Linked DNA regions of Homo sapiens: regions 1 and 2 are each linked to region 3. The links come from fine-mapping of genetic effects on gene expression. A gene starts in region 3. Each other region holds a variant in brackets. All regions are shown on one strand. Distances are between the middles of the regions. Region 1 holds the start of CLEC7A (C-type lectin domain containing 7A). Region 2 holds the start of OLR1 (oxidized low density lipoprotein receptor 1). Region 3 holds the start of CLEC1A (C-type lectin domain family 1 member A).

Region 1 (8,185 bases), 31 kb before region 3:
GGTTCAAGCAATTCTCCTGCCTCAGCCTCCCAAGTGGCTGAGATTACAGGCATGCGCCTCCACGCCTGGCTAATTTTGTATTTTTAGTAGAGACGAGGTTTCTCCATGTTTGTCAGGCTGGTCTCGAACTCCTGACCTCAGGTGATCTGCCTGTCTCTGCCTCCCAAAGTGCTGGGATTACAGGCATGAGCCATTGCACCCGGCCAGATTGCTCATTTTTCTTGGATGACCCACTTGTTTTATAGATGAAAGTTTTCAACAAACTTCACTGAAAATGTAAGTTAGATAACTGGTTTGTTTTTTGTCTTTTCTTTTGTTAGGTTGGTTTGTTTCCACCTGTTTCTTTCCTTTTTTTTTTTTTTTTTTTTTAGATGGAGTTTCACTGTTGTTGCCCAGGTTGGGGTGCAGTGGCACGATCTTGGCTCACTACAACTTCCACCTCCTGGGTTCAAGTGATTCTCCTGTCTCAGCCTCCTAAATAGCTGGGATTAAAGGCACCTGCCACCCCACCCAGCTAATTTTTTATATTTTTAGTAGAGATGGGGTTCCATCATGTTTGCCAGACTGATCTCAAACTGCTGACCTCAGGTGATCCACCTGCCTCAGCCTCCCAAAGTGTAGGAATTACAGGCCTGAGCCACCATGCTCGGCCTTCCACCTGTTTCTTGCATTAACATTTAATGAGGGGTATTTTTCTCTGAATACCCAGCCTATCTCTCCCACTGTCTTGAAATACGAAGGGTATTGTTTTTCTAGTTTGTCAATGATTTGCATAATTAATGTTTAATTGCTTTATTTTAGACAAAGAGACAAAAAAGGAGAATAATGAGAATTAGACTAAAGTTTATGTTTATTGAAAAATTTCTTTGACCACTTAGAGAGTTAACTGTTTTCATAGGATTGTGATTAAACACAGGGTGACAGTCAAAGTCACTATAGGGAAAAACTCTCCCACTGGAGGTCTGATTTGATAGTAAAGACAGCTTCTTATTACTGACTGCAAGGTACTCCCCTCATTATTGTTCTCTAGTTCTCTATTTCTATTTAAGAGGTCGACCCTTTTTCCTGGAGCCAATGTATTCACTGTTTGAGAAATTCCATGGTATCCCTTTGTAGGGGTGAAAGATTCCTTTTCCTCACTCATTGCTAGGTTCACGGCATCTACAATAAAACATAGATCAACAAGAGAATAGCATCCAAATTTATTTAATAGAAGTTACCTGAACAAACAGGCCTTGTTAAGTTCTACTCAGCTTATTACCATTAGATTATACCCTTTTGTTCTCCAGTCATACTTCTGCATAACTGTCCGTAGAAATACTCAGTTTTCCCTGCGTCTTCATTTCAGAAGGCTCTCTTGTCGTATAACATTTACATGCTTTTGTTTTGTTAATCTGTCTTTTGTTATAGGGGTCTCAGTCACGAACCTGGTGATGGGCAAGGAAAAGATACTACTTTTTCTCCCCTACGTTGGACAAGGAGGGTATGATCTAATGCTAATAAACTGGAGGGAGCTTAGCAAGACTAATTTGTTCAGATTCTTCTTGGCATCTCTGTATCTTCAAAGATAAGGAAGTTTCTTTCCTCTAGGAAACAATACTTCTAAAATAAGGGTCTTATGATCTGCTTCAGGGCAGAAAGACGGGGAAAGGTGTGAGAGTGAATTTCCTGATTCTGCTGTTTTCTCAAATGCCAAGAATCCATATTTTGGGGTTGCATGTCCTGAACCTCATACGCTGCTTTCCAAGCACTGCATTATAGGACTGAAACACTGATGAATGTTGAGATTAAGATCCACATTACCACTTTGCAACATGTCTACAAAAACTTAGTAAAACTTTTGTGGCAGCTTAAGTAAGGCGGGAAGCTCATTTATGTACTCTCTTGAGCTCTCTTCCATTTTGATAGGTGTTAGACTGTCAGAACTGCAGAGCCCTCATCATATAACAACTCCTCCCAAATCTCTGCACTAGAGACTTGGCAAACTCTAGCACGCCTTCTAGTAGCCTAAGGCAAGGTCCATAGGATGATTCAGCACTACTTAAAAGGCCAGCCTGAGGAAGCCCAATGCTGCTAGGAGAATTTACTTTTTGTTCCAGTTAAAACTTGTTAACAGGCCAGGTGTGGTGGCTCATGCGTGTAATCCCAGCACCTTGGGAGGCCGAGGCGGGCGGATCACGAGGTCAGGAGATCGAGACCATTCTGGTTAACACGATGAAACCCTGTCTCTACTAAAAATACAAAAAATTAGCCAGGCATGGTGGCGGGCGCCTGTAGTCCCAGCTACTTGGGAGGCTGAGGCAGGAGAATGGCGTGAACCCAGGAGGCAGAGCTTGCAGTGAGCCGAAATCGCGCCACTGCACTCCAGCGTGGGCAACAGAGCGAGACTCTGTCTCAAAACAACAACAACAACAAAAAACTTGGTAACAGATAGGCTCCTGAATTCCTTTTAGAGCAGTTACTTTAGAAATCTTACAGTTAGGCCAGGTGCAGTGGCTCACGCCTGTAATCCCAGCACTTTGGGAGGCCGAGGCAGGCGGATCACCAGAGGTCAGGGGTTCAAGACCAGCCTGACCAACATGGAGAAATGCTGTCTCTACTAAAAATACAAAATTAGCCTGGCGTGGTGGCACATGCCTGTAATCCCAGCTTACTCAGGAGGCTGAGGCAGGAGAATCGCTTGAACCCGGGAGGCGGAGGTTGTGGTGAGCCGAGATCGTGCCATTTGCACACCAGCCTGGGCAACAAGAGCGAAATTTCGTCTAAAAAAAAAAAAAGAAAGAAAAGAAAAATAAATCTTACAGTTAAATTCTTTCTCTGCCCTTTGAGAAGCAAATCTACCACACAGAACTGTTTCTTCAAGGACTTGGGAGCTGTTTCTTTGAAATGCAAACATTCAGGGAGATAAATCTTGCTCTTTCTTTCAGATGCAGCATAAGGACCAACTTAGCTGGGTGCTTCACTTCAACTATCACCATGTCCTTCTGTCATATAGATAGGCAAAGTTTCTCTGTCCTCTGGATAAGGGCCAATTAACAAATCCAGAGAGTCTAGTCACATTAACTTTCCTTAACACCACTCAGTATCTTTTCCTTAGCAAACTCCACTTTAAAATGTCATCAGCTTTACTTTTGGGGAAGTTGAGTTCAGTTAATGCTGCACTGGTTCCTGTTGCAATAGTATTACTGAATAAAACCTGTCCTCACCACATTAACTAGTATCCAGATTTGTTGATCCTTGACAACACTCAGATGTCTCCTGCACTCTACTGGCTTCAAGGTCGGATAAATGAGTTGAACACCTCTTCAGTTTCCAGCAATGTTAGGTGTTTTCTATATTTCTTTGATTTGATCATTACTATGGAAACTGGAAGAGAGGGAAAAAAAATCAAACATCTAACATAATATTTCAGTCCCAACACCTTCCATAAGCTGTTCCTTGCAATATAAGTGTATGGAATGATGAAAGAGGCAGTGTAGCGTAACAGAAAAGACCACGAGTTTTGCAGCAAGAGTCAGCTTTGATTTGATTCCTTGCTCTAAATTTTTAAAATTAGCTTCTTAAACCTGAGAAAGAGGCTAAATTTTCTGTCTCATTTTTTCATTTGAAAATAGAAATAATAATGCCTACTATATAGACTTGGAAAAGTGAGATTGAACAAGAAAATATGTACAACATGTGGTACTTAGCTCATAGTAATTGTTCAATAAATGTTATTTTGTGTTAATATCTGATAATTCCCAAAGAGATTTGTTTTCTCTGTCTGTTGTTACAACAATGCATCTCCTCATGCCATCCCTCATTTACCTATCTATATATTTCCTTTATTAAGCAATGAGTTTCTTCATAGGTATCATTTTTCCTTGTATTGTAAGCTCCTACCAATTGAAAAGGTGGGCATCCAGTACCTGTTTATGTAATTTAAAAAATACATGAATAAATACATGAACAAAGTTATGGTAAACTTGGAGCACCAAAACTGAAATAGTTTGCATCGGTTAAATTAATTAATGTCAGACTTAGTTGTGAGAGTAATGAAGGCAGCATAAGACATTAATGTATGCATTTTTCTTACATTTGGTCTGAAACAAAGACTCATCTGCTATGCTGCCTTTTAGTTTTCCTGAGTCAGCAGTCTCAGAAACAGGATCTAAAGGTACAAATGGAAAATTACCACAGCATAGTTTCATTTCCTGCTCTTGAATATCTGGTTGAACTACTTAAGCTTAATTTGTTAAACTCCGGTAAGTACCTAGCCCACATGATTTGACTCAGAGATTCTCTTTTGTCCACAG[ACAGT/T]CATCTCAGGAGCAGAAAGAAAAGAGCTCCCAAATGCTATATCTATTCAGGGGCTCTCAAGAACAATGGAATATCATCCTGATTTAGAAAATTTGGATGAAGATGGATATACTCAATTACACTTCGACTCTCAAAGCAATACCAGGATAGCTGTTGTTTCAGAGAAAGGTATATATATGTTTTTTCTAATGTGTGCCTTTAGCTCTCCCGTTTGAAAAGATATAAGGGGAGGCTAGGCATGGTGGCTCACACCTGTAATCCCAGCACTTTGGGAGGCCGAGGCGGGTGGATTGACTGAGGTCAGGAGTTCGAGGCCAGCTTGGCTAACGTGGTGAAACTCTGTCTCTACTAAAAATACAAAAATTAGCCGGGCATGGTGGTGCACGCCTGTAGTTCCAGGTACTTGGGAGGCTGAGGCAGGAGAATCACTTGAACCTGGGAGGTGGAGGTTGCAGTGAGCCAAGATCATGCCAATGCACTCCAGCCTGGGTGGCAGAGCAAGACTCCATCTCTGAAAAAAAATAAAAATAAAAACAAAACAAAAAGATATAAGGGGAGAAAATTTGAGAGCCTCGTGATGTGTATATTTTTATGGATATACTTTTAAAGGCTTCAGATGTCACTGAAGATAAATTGAATGCACCCTAAACCTTTTTTCATGAAAATTATTCAGTGACCAATTATTAGTGTTTAAATTAATTATGTCTGATGGCAGAAAATAGAATTTCTCTTTTCTATAGATATAGACATTTCATCAGTGAGGAATTGGTAATAAGTGGGATAATACACAAAGATAAAGGATTTCTGTATGAGTGACTTGTTGCTTGTTTGATAGAAAGGCTAGATTATCGAATGGAGGCCAGGAAACTTAAAGAAGTATATATATGAACAACATTTTTTTTTTGTGGTAAGAGATTAATTTAAATTGTTTTTAAACAAAAAACAATTATTGGTATACCAGTGATGGAAAATATATGAACATATGGTAGATAAAAACATCCCACCAGCAGGACATGAGTCTTAAACAAAGTGTAAATGAAATGAAATAGAAAGAAGGGCATTGGAGGATCTCTGTATTCATAGAATGGGTGATTTAGCCTACTCTACGATTCTCCTATGTGACAATTCTATGAAATGTCCTGACAGCTTAGTCACAGTGGAAAGCAGAAATACATTCTGGTTATGGCAATGTTCATACAAAATTAGTTCCCTATTATCTTTGAGAGAGAGAGATCATTTGTCGGTTTTGACACCAGAGTTTGCTTTCTTCTGCTTTCTGGTTATTCACACTGCACAAATATTTTCCTCTCAGCACTGATGTAATTCTTTTCTTGGGCAACCTATTGAGGAAGCGTGGAAAAAGTGGATGAGGCAAGAGGTAGGGAGACATGCGCATGTTTATGCATATGTGTAGGCAAACGGTATCCTGCAACAACACACCTATCATGTGCTAGCAGTCTCTAAACAAGGTGCTTTTATATGTGTTAGCTCGTTTAATTCCCGCAATAATCCTTTGAGATATTATTACCCCAGTTTCACAAAGAGGAATAAAAAACAACAAAGGGAGTAATTTGCCCAGGGTCATGCAACAAACATATGAAAAGGGAAAATTACCCTTAGTAATCAGTGCTATCTCCCCAACATTAAGCTATTTCCTCTAAGAATCAGTGGGATTTCAGGGATCCTACTAATGTCAAGACCTGTAGATGTCAATGTGGAACTGAAATTAGGAGCATACAGTTATCAAGCCAATGTGCCGAAATTACAATTCCAGCAATTGAAGAAGAAGGTATCCTTACTGGTGGAGAAGCACAGCAAATCCTAGGTGACCAGGTAACCTAGGCAGTGATTAATAATTCACTTAAAAATTTGCCAGTATTTTTTGTTGTTGTTGTTGGTGGTGTGTGTGTGTGTGTGTGTGTGTGTGTGTGTGTGTGTGTTTTAACAGGGTATCACTTTTTTGCCTATGCTGCTCTGGAATTCCTAGGCTCAAGTGATCCTCCTGCCACAGCCTCCAGAGTAGCTGGGACTACGGGAGCTCACCACAATGCCCAGCTAATTAAATTTTTTTTCTTTCTTTGTTTTTCTTTTTTTTTTTTGGTAGGGACAGGGTCTCCCTGTGTTGCCCAGGCTGGTCTTGAGCTTCTGGCCTCAAGCAATCCTCCTACCTCAGTCTCCCTTCTGGGATTACAGGTGTGAGCCACCGTGCAAGGCCAGATTTTTGATGAACTGTAGAATTAAACTGCCCCACCATCCGTCATTCTCTTTCTTTATTCCATTTCTGCCCCCTCTGGCTCCTCAGGATCGTGTGCTGCATCTCCTCCTTGGCGCCTCATTGCTGTAATTTTGGGAATCCTATGCTTGGTAATACTGGTGATAGCTGTGGTCCTGGGTACCATGGGTGAGTATTTGGTGGAGGAGATTAACAACAGACAATTTAGTAAGCAATTATTATGTGCCAGGCACTCTTTTAAGGGCTTGACATGCATAATCTACTTTAATTTGTATATAATCTGGTTTTATCTGTATTGGGTTGGTGCTGTTAATGCCCATTTCACTTATAAAGGGTGTGAGAGACTGAGAGGTTATTTTACCTTTCCAGGGTTATAAGCTAGTTAGTGGTGGGACCATGATTAGAAATTTGGGTGATCTGTCTAAAAAACTCATACTCTTAACTACATTGCTCTCCTACCTCCCTTACATAGCTGGTTTCAAAGCTGTGGAATTCAAAGGATAAATTAATGAAGAAAACAAGCGGAGCTGAAGAAGAAAGTACAATATGGTGCTGTCTTCCTAATGAAATAAATTCACTAAATGGACATTAAGCTATTTTTATGATTCACATTATTTAAGGAAATTATTTCCGATCTTTAATATAAACACCTTTGAATACACCAGAAATTTCCTGAGGCACTTGGTCTTAAGTCGATATTTTGTAATGGATTAATATTTTTTTTACATTTTATATCACATGCAATCTGTTGTCAGTCACCTTCAGAGAGTCTTCATGACATTCCTTAATTAGTCAAATGTTTATTGAGTGCGTTCTATGTTATAGGTACTGGGCAGTTTCTCAAGGATCTCTCATTTTTAAATAACAGAAGAAAGGTGAAAGATGTTGCTATTTCAAATCTGTCATGGGTCCAATTGACTCTATGACATTTGCCTCTTGCTGCCTCCCTCATTCTATTTCTTCTTCTCCACCTTCTTTTTTCTTTTCTTTTTTTTTTTTTACTATACCTCCTTTATAAAAGTTATGTATTTCTTTTCATCTATTCTATCAATCGTCTTTATCTCTCCACAGCAATATATCATCTATTTATCATTAATCAATAATGTATTCTTTTATTCCAATAACATTTGGGTTTTGGGATTTTAATTTTCAAACACAGCAGAATGACATTTTTTCTGTCACTATTATTATTGTTGGTATGTGAAGCTATTTGGAGATCCAATTCAGGAAGCAACACATTGGAGAATGGCTACTTTCTATCAAGAAATAAAGAGAACCACAGTCAACCCACACAATCATCTTTAGAAGACAGTGTGACTCCTACCAAAGCTGTCAAAACCACAGGCAAGGGCATAGTTAAAGGACGGAATCTTGACTCAAGAGGGTTAATTCTTGGTGCTGAAGCCTGGGGCAGGGGTGTAAAGAAAAACACTTAGATTCAATGATTGTAAATTTAAGGCAAATACACATATTAGTATTACCTTAGTGTAATGTATCCCTGTCATATATACAATAAGGTGAAATTATAAGTACCCTATGCAGTTGGCTGGACAGTTCTAAATTGGACTTTATTAATTTTTAAAATCAGTAACTGATTTATCACTGGCTATGTGCTTAGATCTACAGGAGATCATATAATTTGATACAAATAAA
Region 2 (8,185 bases), 71 kb before region 3:
TTTCATTTTCCACCTCCCAAATAGCTGGGATTATAGGCTTGCAACCAGGCCCAGCTAACTTTTGTATTTTTAGTGGTGACAGGGTTTCAACAGGTTGGCCAGGCTGGTCTCGAACTCCTGACCTCAGTGATCCACCCCCCCCCTCAGCTTCCCAAAGTGCTGAGATTACAGGCATGAGCCACTGCACCTGGCCAACTTTTTCAATTTGTTCTCAAATACTCTGCACATAATAAAAGGAATATAGGAAACAGGGAGGAGGAGGGAAATGGAATCCTAATTAGGCTGTCAATATTGGTAATTTTTCCTAATAGTTTCCTATATGTTTTATTTATGTATTTATTTTTCCATTCTTCCTTTGTGTATTCTTTTCTTTGCACTTTTTTTTCCTGGAGTAATTTAAAGTAAATGCCAGATATCATATCATTTTGCTTATAAATACTTCCTTCAGAAGACATCTCTAATAGATATATATCTGGTTAGGAGGTTGTCAAGGGAAAATAGAAAAGTATTCTATCAGTAAATACATATAGACATACTTATGGGTCTCTCATGTAAGCGTCTTTGTGACATGAGTCAATCATGGATTTTACTGAAATACATTATTTGATGGGTAATTCAACTGTGCTGAATATTAGTACTATACTAATAATTATTATTTATTGGCTTCTTATTATGCTCCAAGTACAAAGCTTGTCATTTTTAACCAGCGTGTCATTTGAATTCCTATAGCAACGTGACATTTTTCACAAACCTAGTGTAAAAAAGCTTATTATTTTTACCCAGCATGTCATTTGAATTCCTATAACAATGTTATCAGGTAGACATTATCCCTAATTTCCAGACATGTCATTTGAATTCCTATAACAATGTTATCAGGTAGACATTATCCCTAATTTCCAGACAAAGACATAGATTCAAAGTATTAAGATTTCCCAAGATTGTAGACTAAAGGAAAGTACTGAAACTAGCTCTTTCTGCATTCAAAGTGCTCTCTGCTGCTACGTTACACTGGCACTGCATGAACTAGTAGCCCCAGATAAATTCTAAAATCACCCAGGACACACCATCGCTGGAAATGGGAGCCATATGTGATTCACCCCAAAATTCTTAGATCCATTGCCAGATAAAACAGTGAAAATCAAAAGAGAATATATCTGATTCGTAAAAGACACCATATAGAAACAGTCTGCTAATGAAATTAGCAAACAAACATTGGAATCAAATATTTTGGCCCATAATTCTGGCACATTTTTTACAAATGTAGTGTGACTTACTCTCTTTGAATTTCAGTTTCTGTCTCTGAAGAGTGGGTACAATATCTCTCCTCTGATGCTCATGAAAAATAGTTTTCCCTTTCATAAATTACTTAGCGAAATATCCTGAAACACCTTCAGAATCACCACTTTCTCCACCTGCAATACACATAACTCAAGAATTTGCGTCAGCGAACTTCCCAATATGAAGCAAAGCCTCTCCTTCCTCCTACCAATGATTGAGTCATTCTTCTATTAGATAACAGTAGCTATTTAAATACTTCTGCAGAAGCTCACATATTTTTAGTTTGTTGAAGTTCGTGACTGCTTCACTCTCTCATTCTTAGCTTGAATTTGGAAATGACTTTTGATGACCTAAAGATCCAGACTGTGAAGGACCAGCCTGATGAGAAGTCAAATGGAAAAAAAGCTAAAGGTACTAGGGATGGGAAAATGTGTACAGGGAAAGAATCCCAGTGTTAGCCCCAAAATGTAAATTCACCGAAGAATGGGATTAGAAAGCTAAACACCCAAGTATGGGAAAATAGAATTAATACCATTTACTTAAAAGAAAAACAAGAAGGCTATAATGATGATGATGATGACAACTTATTTATAACAATTTATACTGAGTATTTACTACAGGTTATTCTATATGTTATTCACTTTCAGAGTATTATTTCTCAGAATCTTCGCAATAACATTTTGAGATTGGTACTATTACTATCTCCCTTTTACAGAGAGCTAACTGGGCATCAGGAGGACTAACAACATCATCCAGTTTCACGGAGCTAATAAGTGGTAGAGCTAGGACTGTACCACAAACTCCCATTTATCCAGAATTCTATACATCGGAGGGCTCGGGAACCAAATTTATCTGGTGTATATAACGATAATTTCTGTAAGAGTCCTTCAGGCACTACAAAAACCTGAAGTACCTCATGAATTATGCAGGCAAAGTAAATGATATTCAGTATAGTTTAGCATAAGTTACATTTTGTTGTGTACTACTGCTTTGAAAAATTGTAAGTTCTGTTTGACCCATACAGTAATTAAATTGCATAGCTATAAATTAATTCATAATCCCAATTCCACAGACAATCTGGGTAAATTGCCTTTTATTCTATATCTGTTCTGAGGAAAATGAACAGAATATAAGGAGAGAAAGAGAGACAAGTATTGTCAGAAATTTGGATAAAGAAATTCCAAATTACATTTCCAAAAACAAAACAGAAATTTCTCTCAATAGAGAACATAAGTGTGAGCATGGAGTGATTTAACATTTGAGCCAATGAACTAAATTGCTATAAAAACTGCTGATATTTATAGGTAAAACCAGAAGTGAACAATAGTCATTCGTTTCTTTACTCATTCATTATTTGTGTAGTAAATATTGAGGGTCTGAATTTTACAATAATCATGAGATTGATTTTTCTTTCAGAATCTTGGTTAGATCGGTACCTACTGCAAAGAATCGGATTGGTTTATGATTGGAAAATCACTAGTAGGGGCAGCAGTTGGATTAATGGTCTCTGCCTACCAAGGACACAGGACAAAGAGAATCTATAGAAAAAGGGAACACATACCTTCCTTCACAGGGTCCTGTGATTTTCTTTTTCCTCTAAAAATTTAGTTTTTCATTATTTAAGAGTGATGAGGCCAGGCGCGGTGGCTCACGCCTGTAATCCCAGCACTTTGGGAGGCTGAGGTGGGCGGATCATGAGGTCAGGAGTTCGAGACCAGCACGGTGAAACCTCATCTGTACTAAAAATACAAAATTTAACCTGCTGTGGTGGTGCGCGGCTGCAATCCCAGCTGCTCAGGAGGCTGAGGCAGGAGAATCACTCGAACCCAGGAGGCGGAGGTTGCAGTGACCTGAGATGGCGCCATGGCACTCCAGCCTGGGCGAAGAGCAAGCTCCCCCTCAAAAAAAAAAAAAAAAAAAAGAGCACGATGAGGGTATCTGATGCCCTACAATGTGGAATGAACAGTGACCACAGAGTTGAAAGATTTACATAGAGGTATTTGCCCCTGAGGCTAGAATTAGGCAATTATTTGCAAGAGACACAGCTATCTTCTACAACTTCTCTGCTAGCTTGCCACACACACTCTAGAAGCCAGTAAGTATTGAATCAGAAGATGAACCATATTTATCCCTGTCAAGTTTCTATCTTCTTTTTATCATTTGTGGAGTCTAACACACTACCTTTGACATATGAAAACTTTGAATATATCTGACCACTGCTTGACTGGATCATTATACATTCACACTGGAAATTGTATTATAATATTTCAAGTCATGTAGCTACTGACAATTAGACTAAAGACTTATTTTTGGGTTTTAGCATCTGTGTGATCTTAAGCAAGTCACTAAACCTTTCAGTCTCCTTATTTGCATACAGAGGATAATGATAGGAGTACCTTATTTGTTTATCTCACAAGGTGAGGAAACCAAATACATTGTATGGGATGTTTTCCTACACAACCAGTAATATCTGTGATTTTTTTTTTTTTAGTGGTGGAACACATAATTGTATATTCATACACCTGTGAGCTATGTGATTTTTTTTTCAAAATGGTGAATATTTCTCTTGTAAAATCAAGCCTACACTTGGCGTGAGTGTAGGATATGCTGTTAATATAAGCTAAATTAATATCAAGGTTTCATCCCTACTTTTCTTTGATTAATAACCCCAGTTCCAGGTTGTAATTTTGGTGGACTCATAATTGAATAGCATAAAATTATTCATAAA[GTTAT/T]TTGAGGTAATCTCAGTTGATTAACTGAAGAAAGCTTGTTTGCTTGATGTCTGATATTTATGTTACTTTTGTGTGCACATGTGTACACGTGGTGTATATTAAAAACTTCAGGCTCTCTGCACTGTGGATGAATTTGATCCAACCAAGCTAGACTGTGAGTTTCTTGAGGAGTAATTGTCGGGAAAGTAGATAAAGTATAAGCTTTAGAATCATATATTTAGATTCAAATATCTGGTATCGAATCCTGGCTCTGAATTTACTGGCTGTGTGACCATGGGTAAATTACTTAAATTCCTTAACTCTCCCTGTTTTCCATTCCTAAATGTGTATGATGAATTATTTGCAGAGCCATTTGGAGGACTAGTGGTATGGAATGCAAACTATTTATGTCTATTTACTAAAACATAAACAGAGTAAATCACCAAGTACAGACAGGCTCCAAGGAATGGTTTGCTTACTTGTTCACTCTTTTTTGTCTTTCTGATTCTATCCTCTGTCACTCTAGGTCTTCAGTTTCTTTACTCTCCATGGTGGTGCCTGGCTGCTGCGACTCTAGGGGTCCTTTGCCTGGGATTAGTAGTGACCATTATGGTGCTGGGCATGCAATGTAAGTGCTAAAATACGGAACTGATGTTTATTGGGGCAGGGGTGTTGGAAATGAGGTTAATAAATATGGTTTATAAGTTTCTTTCATAACAACTACAAACAGCCTTGATATAGATTCATTTTAGGCAAAATGTTTTTAAGAGTGACCATGAAAATAAAGGGGTATATTGTTCATCTTCCAATGGATAGAGCCATGAAATAAAAATTACAATTGGTAGGCATTTTTTTGTTTGTTTGTTTTGTTTTGTTTTGTTTCTTTTGTTTTCATAACTTCATGGATAGGCCGGGTGCGGTGGCTCACACCTGTAATCCCAGCACTTTGGGAGGCCAAGGTGGGTGGACCACCTGAGGTCAGGAGTTCAAGACCAGCCTGGCCAACATGGTGAAACCCCATCTCTACTAAAAATACAAAAAGTAGCCGGGTGTGGTGGCACATGCTTGTAATCCCAGCTACTCAGGAGGCTGAGGTAGGAGAATAGCTTGAACCGGGGAGGTGGAATTTGCAGTGAGCTGAGACTGCACCATTGCACTCCAGCCTGGGCAACAGAGCGAGACTCCATTTCAAACAAAACAAACAAACAAAAAACCAACCTCATGGATAGAGCCTATTTAAATTCTAGAATGATGGAGAAGATAATAACTTAAAGTTACTAATATCCAAGATCATCTGAGAGGCCCAAAAGTAAAAGAAATTTTATTTAGCTTGCTGAGTTTTGATAGAGATAATTAAATACCATTTTAATGTTAAGAACCAGAAACACAATCTTAATAAATAAAACATTTAAAATAAAATATATTTCACATTTATAATAAGAGCATTTAGAAAAGAGAAGATATTGAGGGAAAAAAAGAAGTGAAAAGATGGCCCAGAGTGGCCAAGAAGGAAAGAAAATGGTGCCCAACGTTCACCTGAACTGCCTGTGAATTTAGGTTGTAGAACTGAGTTGTTTAGGCTACCCAGGATCCAGGTTATTATGGCCATTGAAGTGCTATTTGCTTCCTAACTGTTGTTCAAGCTCACAAACTATTTTATTTTAAATTTGTAAATACTTAGGGCCTTTCCTAGTGACAAGGAGAAGTGCCCTTGACTTAGTGGTGGTGACCAGAAAAATCTTTTGAGCCTTTGATCATCTTATAACAGGATCAAAGCTGCCTTCAAACCAAGCGGTCTGCTTTGTATTGCACCATCAAAATTCAGGAACTGAGACATTTGACCCTTAACATGTTATCGCCTGCTTGATTTCACAACCTTCACTTTATCTTCACCCTTCCTAAAATGTACCGTGGCCAAGGGGAAAAAAAAAAGAAAAGAAAAAATTCTTGGAGACTCTTGTGACACAGTGTGCGTGGCTGTCTCAAAAAAGGGGTGTATGTCACAGTTCTTAAAATTAGGAAGTCTGGAAGAGTAGACAGAATGGGAGGAGACACAGCAGAGGAATTGAGACATAAATAGAGTAAATCGCTAATGACATTTCCTACTAATAGTCACTGAGTCTGGTGGGTGTCTGTTTCAGGTTTTCCTTATTTTATTTATTCTAATGCTGTACTGGTTATCTTGTGATTACTTTTCATTTGTAACTCAATAAAAAAAAATCTTGGGTTTTTTTTGTTGTTGTTGTTGTTTTTTATTTTTTTTGAGACAGTCCCCCTCTGTCGCCAGGCTGGAGTGCAGTGGCACTGTGATTCCCCTGCCTCAGCCTCCTGAGTAGTTGGGACTACAGGCGCGTGCCACCACCCTCAGCTAATTTCTTTGGTATTTTTAGTAGAGATGGGGTTTCACCATGTTGGCCAGGATGGTCTCTATCTCTTGACCTCGTGATCTGCCTGCCTCGGCCTCCCAAAGTGCTGGGATTACAGACCTGAGCCACCGTGCCTGGCCAAAATCTTGGTAATTTTTAAAAAAATTACAAGTGTTTGCAATGTTCCTGACATTAAACAAAATACTGCAGGAATATTCAAGAACCTCCAAATCTGTAACTTCTGAGTAAATCTGGGTCATTTTTCAGCAGCTTATCTATTGTCAAAATAGATTTAATTCTGTTTTGATTTCCTCAAAAAGTCCCTGGAGGGATTTTTATTTGGATTAGAACTAGAGTCTTAATGCAACTGTGATTCAGTATCCCAGGTGTCTGACCTCCTAACACAAGAGCAAGCAAACCTAACTCACCAGAAAAAGAAACTGGAGGGACAGATCTCAGCCCGGCAACAAGCAGAAGAAGCTTCACAGGAGTCAGAAAACGAACTCAAGGAAATGATAGAAACCCTTGCTCGGAAGCTGAATGAGAAATCCAAAGAGCAAATGGAACTTCACCACCAGAATCTGAATCTCCAAGAAACACTGAAGAGAGTAGCAAATTGTTCAGGTATTGGGAGAAGGGTGGGTAAGGAGACATAGTGGAAGCTTTCTGTCCAATCATAACTATTTTTTGGAAACAATTCTGGGCTCAAAATTGGTCTATTGTTATGCATATCATTATTCATTCATAATGTTCTATACAAGAAGTTCTCAATTTCTTTTTCTTTTTCTTTCTTTTTCTTTTTTTTTTTTAGATGGAGTTTCGCTCTTTTGCCCAGGCTGGAGTGAAGTGGTGTGATCTCTGCTCACTGCAACCTCCACCCCCTGGGTTCAAGTGATTCTCTTGCCTCAGCCTCCCAAGTCGTTGGGACTACAGGCTCCCATCACCACGCCCAGCTAATTTTTGTATTTTCAGTAGAGACAGGGTTTCACCATGTTGGCTAGGCTGGTCGCGAACTCCTGACCTCAGGTGATCCACCCATCTTGGCCTCCCAAAGTGCTAGGATTACAGGCATGAGCCACCGCTCTCGGTCAATTTTTTATTTATTTTATTATTATTTTTTAATTTTAGACGGAGTCTTGCTCTGTCACCCAGGCTGGAAAGCAGTGGTGTGATCTCAGTTCAATAAGCTTCTGCTTCTTGGGTTCAAGCAGTTCTCCTGCCTCAGCCTCCCAAAGTGCTTGGGATTACAAACATGAGCCACCATGCCCAACTAATTTTTGTACTTTTAGTAGAGACAGGGTTTTGCCATATTGAACAGGCTGGTCTCAAACTCCTCACCTCAAGTCATCCGCCTGCCTCAGCCTCCCAAAGTGCTGGGATTACAGGTGTGAGCCACCGCACCCGGCAAGAAGTTCTAAATTTTTAATCAGAACCACCCTATGCTGTGTCAAATCCTTGAAAAATCTGATTTAATTAAGCATACCTTTTGGTGGATTTAAGTTTTCCTTCTTTATAAGAGCCTCTTCTTTTTAAAATTTTAGTTTTGAGATTTTTCTTTCTTTTTTTTTATTTTTTGAGACAGTCTCGCTGTGTCACACCCAGGCTGGAATGCAGTGGTGTGATCTCAGCTCACTGCAACCTCCACCTCCTGGGTTCAAGTGATTCTCTTGCCTCAGCCTCCCTAGTAGCAGTTTTGACATTTTTCTTGAAGAATTCTGCCACCCCCACCCCATTCCATAGATCCTTATCTCTTTCCATTCCAATGCATTTTAATCACTGTATTTCTTTTTCTAAGGGATCTTTTTGTCCTTGCAACTGTCTACCCCTAAC
Region 3 (8,185 bases):
CTTTCTCAGATGCTAGACATAGTAGTAATGTGCTGAATGTGTGAGCAAACTTACTGTCTCTGGAAGCTTATCTCATTCCAATGTGGTATGCACTTTTAAATTTATTTACTTTGCTCCAGTATTTTATTCACTGGGTTGATGGTTCAGGCTTCAGGCCAGTAGTGGAGGTGTTCCTAGGTAGGAACCAGTTGTGGCTAAAGAAGGTGGGTAAATGCAATACCCAATGGTGGGCAGAGGTCTCAGCCTTGACAAAAGGGGCTGGGGGAGCTGTCAGGGAGACACACTGAAGTCTTATCAGGGGAAGGGTGGTAGCCACCTTAGCTCCCCTGTCAGGTCAGCTGGGAAGCTATCCATCTCCCAGACTCACATCTGTCCCAATATTCTGGCTATTCAGATCAGACAGGCCTCTCTTTTCATCTGCTGGAATGTTAGTGCTCCAAGTAGAGAACTGTGACTCTGCCTCTTATGTAAGCCTGAAACTGGAGGGTTGCTTCCCCTGTGGGGTTGCGGTCACCCTGAAGTGTTCTACAAAGTCTGTCTATGGGTGCACCCATGCTGAGCTCTTGTGGGAGAAGACCCAGCTGTGTCTGCAGTGGTGGACGAGGTTGGTAAGAAGTCCCCTTCTCCAAGATCCTTGATAAGCACCAGGGCTGTCTGACTGTTGGGACAGCTGTAGACATTCCCTGCTGAGCCCAGCACTTCAATTCTGCCTCTATTGAAAGAAACTTCCCACCAGTGGAACAATCTAATCCTTAAGACCTGCCATCTGGATTCTTTATTCACACAGGGTGTTCCCTTGATGTGGCACACTCTCCCTTTCCTTAGGAGTAGAAGTTCCTGAGAGACAGACTACTATGAGTGCTGCTGCTCCTCAGGGTCTAGCCACTCAGTGGCTCCAGACTAGTGCTGGGGGATGTCTGCTAAGGATCCAGTGATATGACCTGTCCTCCAGTTTTCCAGCAGCTGTTATCAGCACCAGGTCTGATGGGGGTGCCAGAGGCGTGACATAGACCTGTGAGATTCCTTGATTATAGATAACTTTAGTGTGTTGTCTTTCTTGAATGCTAGTTCAGGTAGTAATAAACTGGTCATGTGGATAGACTCAGGACCTCCTGGTTAGACAGGGTAGTGCAGGAAGTGGTAATAGCTGAGGTCACACAGTAGTTTTGTCCTTCTTGAGTGCAGTGTTATTCCACCTACAGATGCTGCAATGGACTGTGTTGGTAGGCTTCCAGCTACTGGGTGGCATTTGCAAAAGAGTATCAGGTGTGGTAGTAGCAGTGGGATTTGTGCTTGCCTTATGTTGCCCAGGGTAGGTAGTCTGGCTTCTCAGGTGATGGATGGGGCTATAAATCTCCCCAGGGTTTCTGTCCTTTGTATTAAGCTACCACGGTGGGTGGAGGGGCAAAGCCAGATGAGGGCTGTGTTAGGTGGGTCTGCACTCTGAGTCACCATGTGCATGGCAAGCAGCGGCCCCTTTTGGAGATGTGGTTGCACAGGGAGTGGGGAGTAGTAGGCAGCAGTAAGCCTAACCCAGATGTCACACAGTTGGCAAGGCAGATCTGGCTCCTGCAGTACTCTGCTAGCAGCAGTGAGCTAAGTTCCAGGCAGTCTGCACTCAGAGCTCACAACTGCCTGAGGCCATAAACTTTTCCCGTGGTGATAGCAACTGCTGGCGTTCAGGCCATGCCCCTCTCTGTCCACCCACACAGCTGGCACCCAGATCCTGCACTCACGGCTGCAACACATTTCCCACTCACCTTTCTGGTTCTGGCCAAGGGAGTTCATTTCACTTGAGGTTATATTGTGAATTTCAGTTGGGAGTTTTTACAATGTGCAACCCCTGGCTGAGCTAGTTGGCTGAGTTCCGTGAGGTTGTCTGTGAGGCATAAGGAATAGTTTCCCTTGGCTCATGCTGGAGACTGGGAATGCACACAAGCCTCTTCCTGCTGCTGCTCTTACTTTTATATTCATCACTGCTCTTTTAATTGGTTCCAGTGCTGGGACGGGTTAAGGCCTTCCCCCATGGCATGGACTTTCAGGTTCCCCTGTGGGGGTATGTATCCTGGAGCCAGTCTCTTCACCTCACACACCCTGGGAGCTTACAGTTTTTCACCTAGCTCATGGTGTAGGTATAACCTGCTGCTTCTTTCAAAGAGTCTGTGGATTCTTTCAGTTTTCCTGTTCAGTTCCTGTGTTGCTTCTTGGGAAAAGAGTTCACAGTGAGAAGGTTTTTTTTTTTTTTTTTTTTTTTCAGATGGAGTCTCGCTCTGTTGCCCAGGCTGGAGTGCAGTGGTGTGATCTTGGCTCACTGCAACCTCCGCCTCCCGGATTCAAGTGATTCTCCTACCTCAGCCTCCCCAGTAGCTGGTATTATAGGCACCCGCCACCACGCCCGGCTAATTTTCATATTTTCAGTAGAAACGGGGTTTTGCCATGTTGGTCAGGCTGGTCTCGAACTCCTGACCTCAGGTGATCCACCCACCTCAGCCTCCCAAAGTGCTGGGATTAAAGGCGTGACCACCATGGCTGGCCCACAGTGAGAATTTTTTACTCACTATTTTGTCCTTCCAAGTGGTAGAGTCATGCTAACACTGCCTCCAATCTGCCATCTAAAAAAAAAAAAATTCCAATTTTTAAAAAATTTAGAATAATTTGATGAACAACAAACAGCTTGAAACACATGTGAATCCACAATGTGCACTTCCTCATAGATCTTTTATATGGTCTGGCTACCCCAACTGGAGCATTCTGACACTCCTTTATATTTAGCATGCTTGATTTTGCCCACCTATCACCTAACATCTGGAAAAGTTTTGGTAGAGTAATATAAGTCTATTGTACAGATTCAGGAAGAACTTTTAGACATTATCTAAAACAATCTTCTTGTCTTTCAGTTTAGGAAATGTAGATGCAAATTGTTAATTGTCCTCCCAAAGGCACAAGGTTGTTACTGATACCTGTCTTGTTATGGTTTGAATGTGTTTCCTGCAGAATTCAGGTGTTGCCAGTGTGGTAGTATTGAGAGAGGTGGGGCCTTTAAGAGATGATTAGTCCTTGAAGTCTTCTCTCTTGAGGATGGTATTAAGGCCTTTATAAAAGACGCTACATGTAGCATTTGGCTGGCTTGACCTTCTGCTTTCTGCCACGTGAGAATACCCTTCCTCCTCTACAGAGAGTGCAGCTCTCACCTGACATCCAAACCTGCCAGTGCCTTGATCTTAGATTTCCCACCTTCTGGAATGCTGAGAAATACATTTCTATTGCTTATAATTTATCTGGTCTCAGGTATCCTGTTGTAGGTCAGCACAAACAGACTAAGATGGGAATATAATTCTAATGTACTGATTCAGGAAGAATTTTTTCACATTACCTAAAACATTTTCTTCTCAGTTTAGGAGATTTAGGCACAAATGAACTGGCTTCCCCAAACCACATGGTGGTTAGTAATAGTTTTAAAAGTTTTTACTTCCAGTAAATTGTATAATTCCTCGTGATCATAATGTACCAAATGTGCTATAAAATGTTGAATCAAGTTCAGATACTATAAGAAAGACCACTACTCTGTTCTTGGAGAAAGGAAGGGGCTAGGTCCTATAATCTCTTCTCTTTTCACAAAGACACAGAGAGGTTAAACTAAGTGACTCCCTAAAGGATGGGTAAGAAACAGGGATGTGTGTCCTTCCAAGTTATTATTATTCTGCAGACTCTGAAGGAACCACAGTGCTACACCGTGCTATTGTAAGTTCTTGCCTTCTTTACAGTGAAGTTACATGAGAAATGCAAACAGGTAAACAAAAAAGACCTGAGAAAGGCCAACTTTTTGACAACTGTTTAGACTGAGACGGCCTAAACAGAAAACACATGCTATTTCCCCTCAGCCTGACTGATTTGGCATTCAGAGTACAAGCTCACAGGAGAGGGGCTGGGCCTGTCCAGTCAGGAATTGCAGTCAGAGACTTTCCCTGCCCCTCGCTGGGAAAGAACATTAGGAATGCCTTTTAGTGCCTTGCTTCCTGAACTAGCTCACAGTAGCCCGGCGGCCCAGGGCAATCCGACCACATTTCACTCTCACCGCTGTAGGAATCCAGATGCAGGCCAAGTACAGCAGCACGAGGGACATGCTGGATGATGATGGGGACACCACCATGAGCCTGCATTCTCAAGGCTCTGCCACAACTCGGCATCCAGAGCCCCGGCGCACAGGTACCCTGTCTCCTGGAGTCCAAATAGACCACAGTCCTTGTGAAATGTGTGAGATGATCTATCCCTCCTAGAAATGGAGATATTTAGCTTGCATCTTATAATTTTATTTCCAATTACTCGCCCTGTGACATAGTAGTGATTTTTTTTTTTCAGTTATATTCAGTTCCATAATTCCCACACTTAGAGAAGGATTTTATTTCCTGGGCCACTCAGCCAATCTAAAGCTAAAATATGACTTCAGTTCTAGTGAAAAGGACTCACATGGTAATATACACAGGACTAGGTTCTAGGTCCTAAACCAGGTATGCCACTTTCCTTCTGTGTAACTTTGGATGAGTTGTTTAAGTATCCTGGTAGCATCATATTCTTTATTTATAAAATATTAACGGCCACAAACATGTATAAAGGGCTCATTATGTGCTGGCAGTGTTTTAAATACTTTAAGTATATTAATTCATATTAACTTGACTTAATATTAAATAGAAGTAATAAAACTTCCTTTACAAGGTGGTTGTGAGTACTGAGAATGATAAATTATGTAAAATATTTGAATGTCTGTCTGATCTGATATAGACTGACACAAAATTGCTGAAAGGAACACTTTAGGTTCTTAAGAAATGGAATGTTGAAAGGAATCCCACATTTTAACATTCATTCAGTGCCTGTGTTTTAATATGCCCTTTCCCTTCTGATTATATCATTGTTTTCTTCACCTTTGTAAATCTGGATATACCTTTAAAAAAAAAAAACTATCCTGTTCCTTATTTCTTTATCAAATAACTTTTAGTTTTCCTTCCTTTCTCCTACTAAACCCTCCATTCACTTTCTATTTATTTCTATTTATTAAATGACCCTCCACCTGAAACCTACTAATATGGCTTTTTTTTTTTTTAACTAAACTACCCAGTAAGCTGTTAAGGGACATTGGGGATTTCCAACCTCTTTGAAATGAAGCTAAGTGACAAAAGTAGGGATGTCAGCTTTTGTAGCCACAGGATATGTGTAATAGGATACAAAGCGTTTTCCTCCAAAAAAACTTACGAAGAGTCCATTTTTACGGCTGTGGTTTTGAGTAGCTTGTATATAACTTCATTTTCCACCTTTGACTGGAGCCAGGAACTCTGTCAAGGACTAGAGATCAGCATAATTAAGAACAGCATGTACAAATAAGTTCTGCTGAGGTTGAAGGGTGGAGAGGGAGGTGGAGCAAGATAAAACACTAGCTGCAACATCTGGGAGCTTCTTTGTAAGAAATGGATATTGAAACAGTAGAAGTGGAGATTACAAAGAATTGTCTTGGAAGAAATCATCTGGAAATAGTTATCTTAGGCAACATATATGAGATCTTGTTTTCATCTTTTTATGGTAATACAAACATTTAGGGGAATACCATCATAGAAGTATAATTATTTCTTAGATAAACATATCTGATATACCTTCGCTGATAAAAATAACAGCAGAAATCACTCAGAAATTTTCGGCAATGTGGAGGATTCAGATTCAACATAATGATGTGATACCATTAAGAGCTGGCAACTTTTATTTTTTAGAATTAATAAAAATAAATCACACACACATTCATTTAATTTCTAGACTTTTGTCAATAACAATTGACGTAACAACTATGTTTGTGTTTAAAAATGCCAAACAATTAAGATAGTAAAAATGCCAAACAATTAAGATAGTGAAAATGAAAAACAACAACCTCATACATTTTTCACAAACTTATGTTTGGGGTCATGTTATCCTAGTACTGAGGATATAATGTCCAATGTGATATGGTCCCTGTTCATAAGGAAATTGAAAGTCTAATACAATTCTCAACTAAGGAGTAAGTATAATAAGGTGTTATGGCAGAAGCATGTACAGTACAGCCGAGAGCTTAACCAAGCTCTCGGCTTAATTTTTACCTAATTAAGTAGAGGAGTTCAGGAAAGGCTTAACAGAAGGAGCAACTGTGGAGTTGAGTTAATTTTAACATCTTCCACATAATAAGGAATCGGGAGTGAGGGTGTTTGAGAGGCTGGGGACACTATAGACAGAGAGACGTATGAAGGGAAAGTCATGAAGGTTTTCAGTAGCTTTGTATTTTTAGAGAACTATAAGCAATATGTATGGCGTAGGTGTAGAGTTGGAGGAGGGAAACTTAGCAAAGGGGTAAGTCTGGCAAGTTAAGGAGGGATTTTAGGGCATGCTGATCTAGTTTAATTCTATTCAATAGTTAAAATGAAGTCAATGCAGGATTTAGATAGGGAGAAACAAAATTTTGCATTTTGGAAAGACCTTCCTGGCTGCAATGGAAATGATAAGTTGAAGGTATATGAAACTGCATGTGCTGATACCAAATTTTTCCACTAGTCCAGTACAAGGGTAGAAAAACCTGAACTGAGGCAGTATAGTAAAAATAAGGAAAAAGAATCAGATATGAAAGATGTCGAGGTGTTGGAGTTTAGATAATCGGTGATTGGTTACATGTGAGGAGACAAGGAAAGGGACTTCGGTGGTAGGTTGACTAGGTTCTGTTTGATGTAATGTAGATGGTGCTGATGTTAACTGAGACAGAAACTATAGAAGGGACAGGAAAGATGATGAATTGAGTTTGAGTTTAAGGGGTCTGCAGAAGGAGGGACATGCATTTGGAGCTGTCCAAAGACACCCGTATATGCAGGATGTGGGTTGGGCTACATAGACATGTGGGAATTACTGGCATAGTAATTAAATAAATAAAGTAAATGAGGTACCTAAGTCATTAAGTCAAATAAATGGCTAGTAACTAAAATGTATGAGAGTGAGTGAGATCACTGAGGGAAGGAATGTAAAATGAAAACATGAATGAACAGAAGAGAGTGTCAAGGAGATAATCTGAGGGAATATCAACACCTGAGGAGCAAGAAGAATGAAAGATTCCAAAAGGAGCTACCAGGGATGAATAGCAGAGAGTGGTAGAAGCAGGAGTCTTGGAGAGAGACAACAAGGGCATCAAGAGACAATAAATTCAAGAGTAATGGAAAATTAGAGTAATGGAAGGACAATAAATTCAAGAGTTTTAGAAAAGTCAATGATAATGACTGTGAGTTTTAAAAACAACAAATAACAAATACTGCAGAGAGTTTAAGCGAAAGGAAGACTAAAATGATTATTTAACAATTTATCAATAAGGAGGAAAATATTTAGTTTTGACAGCAGTGGTTTGAAAAGGAACTGATGGTTACATAATAAAATAAACAATTTAAGTCATTTTCTCTTTTTCTTTCTCTCTTTTTTTTTGAAGATAAAATGGGTTATTGCTGAGGTATTACAGCATTGGGTGACAGATTTTAAGAATGATTTTTTAAGATGTGGGAAATTCTAACTCAATTGTAGATTGAAAATAAGTTCAGGGAGAGAACTTCACATTAACAGTACAGTAAGAGGAGAGAGGATGAAATAACTGACAGGCTGAGATTCCTGCCAGAGACTAAATTTTATCCTATCAAAAGAATATGAAAAATTACTTTGGTTAAATAATTTTAAAAAATTTAATAATAAATTCAAGTTCCTCTTTTCCCTTGTTCACATTAATTACAGTACTATTGAATTTCCCAGCGTTTTAGTTTTATTTCCTCAATTACAGCATAAATCCCTCATCACAGTCATGACATAAATCGCTGTTAACTGATTCAACAACTCTTTAAATCAAACCTACTAATGACAAGACATTATGGGATGTACTAGAGGAGCCTCTTTTTCAGGTGCTTAGAGAAGTGGAAGGAATACTCTAAATCAATAGTTGTAGTAAATGTCATTTAGTGCTATTAAATCAATGTTGGAGGCCGCAGAAGCAATATAGGAATGAATGAGTTACTGATTGAGTTTAGTTTTGCGAGTTCCCAGAGGAAGTGACATGATCTGGACCCATGAGGCTAAGAAGTAAAATGGGATCCTATTAGGAGGAGCCTGATACAGTACACTAAGAAACTGACTAAAACAGAAAGAGCCT

What was found.
Region 1: its variant is fine-mapped to the expression of CLEC1A in whole blood (INTERVAL, PIP above 0.99).
Region 2: its variant is fine-mapped to the expression of CLEC1A in blood mononuclear cells (TOPMed, PIP 0.90).

Annotation. Positions count from the first base shown.
Region 1 is chr12:10,126,262-10,134,446 of GRCh38, reverse strand. It overlaps CLEC7A (C-type lectin domain containing 7A), which reads left to right and starts at 4,248. Exons shown (of 6, transcript NM_197947.3): 1 at 4,248-4,467; 2 at 6,602-6,700; 3 at 7,739-7,876. The coding sequence starts at 4,365. It overlaps LOC105369655 (a long non-coding RNA gene), which reads right to left. Exons shown (of 4, transcript XR_007063208.1): 2 at 3,207-3,366; 3 at 2,655-2,762; 4 at 833-1,161. RefSeq lists an enhancer at 1-709. The variant ACAGT/T (reference allele first, on the strand shown) is at 4,296.
Region 2 is chr12:10,165,506-10,173,690 of GRCh38, reverse strand. OLR1 (oxidized low density lipoprotein receptor 1) reads left to right here and starts at 1,559. Exons shown (of 6, transcript NM_002543.4): 1 at 1,559-1,689; 2 at 4,516-4,617; 3 at 6,734-6,979. The coding sequence starts at 1,614. It also overlaps a transcript of TMEM52B not described here. RefSeq lists a silencer at 5,774-5,974. The variant GTTAT/T (reference allele first, on the strand shown) is at 4,007.
Region 3 is chr12:10,094,829-10,103,013 of GRCh38, reverse strand. CLEC1A (C-type lectin domain family 1 member A) reads left to right here and starts at 4,029. Exons shown (of 6, transcript NM_016511.4): 1 at 4,029-4,206. The coding sequence starts at 4,092.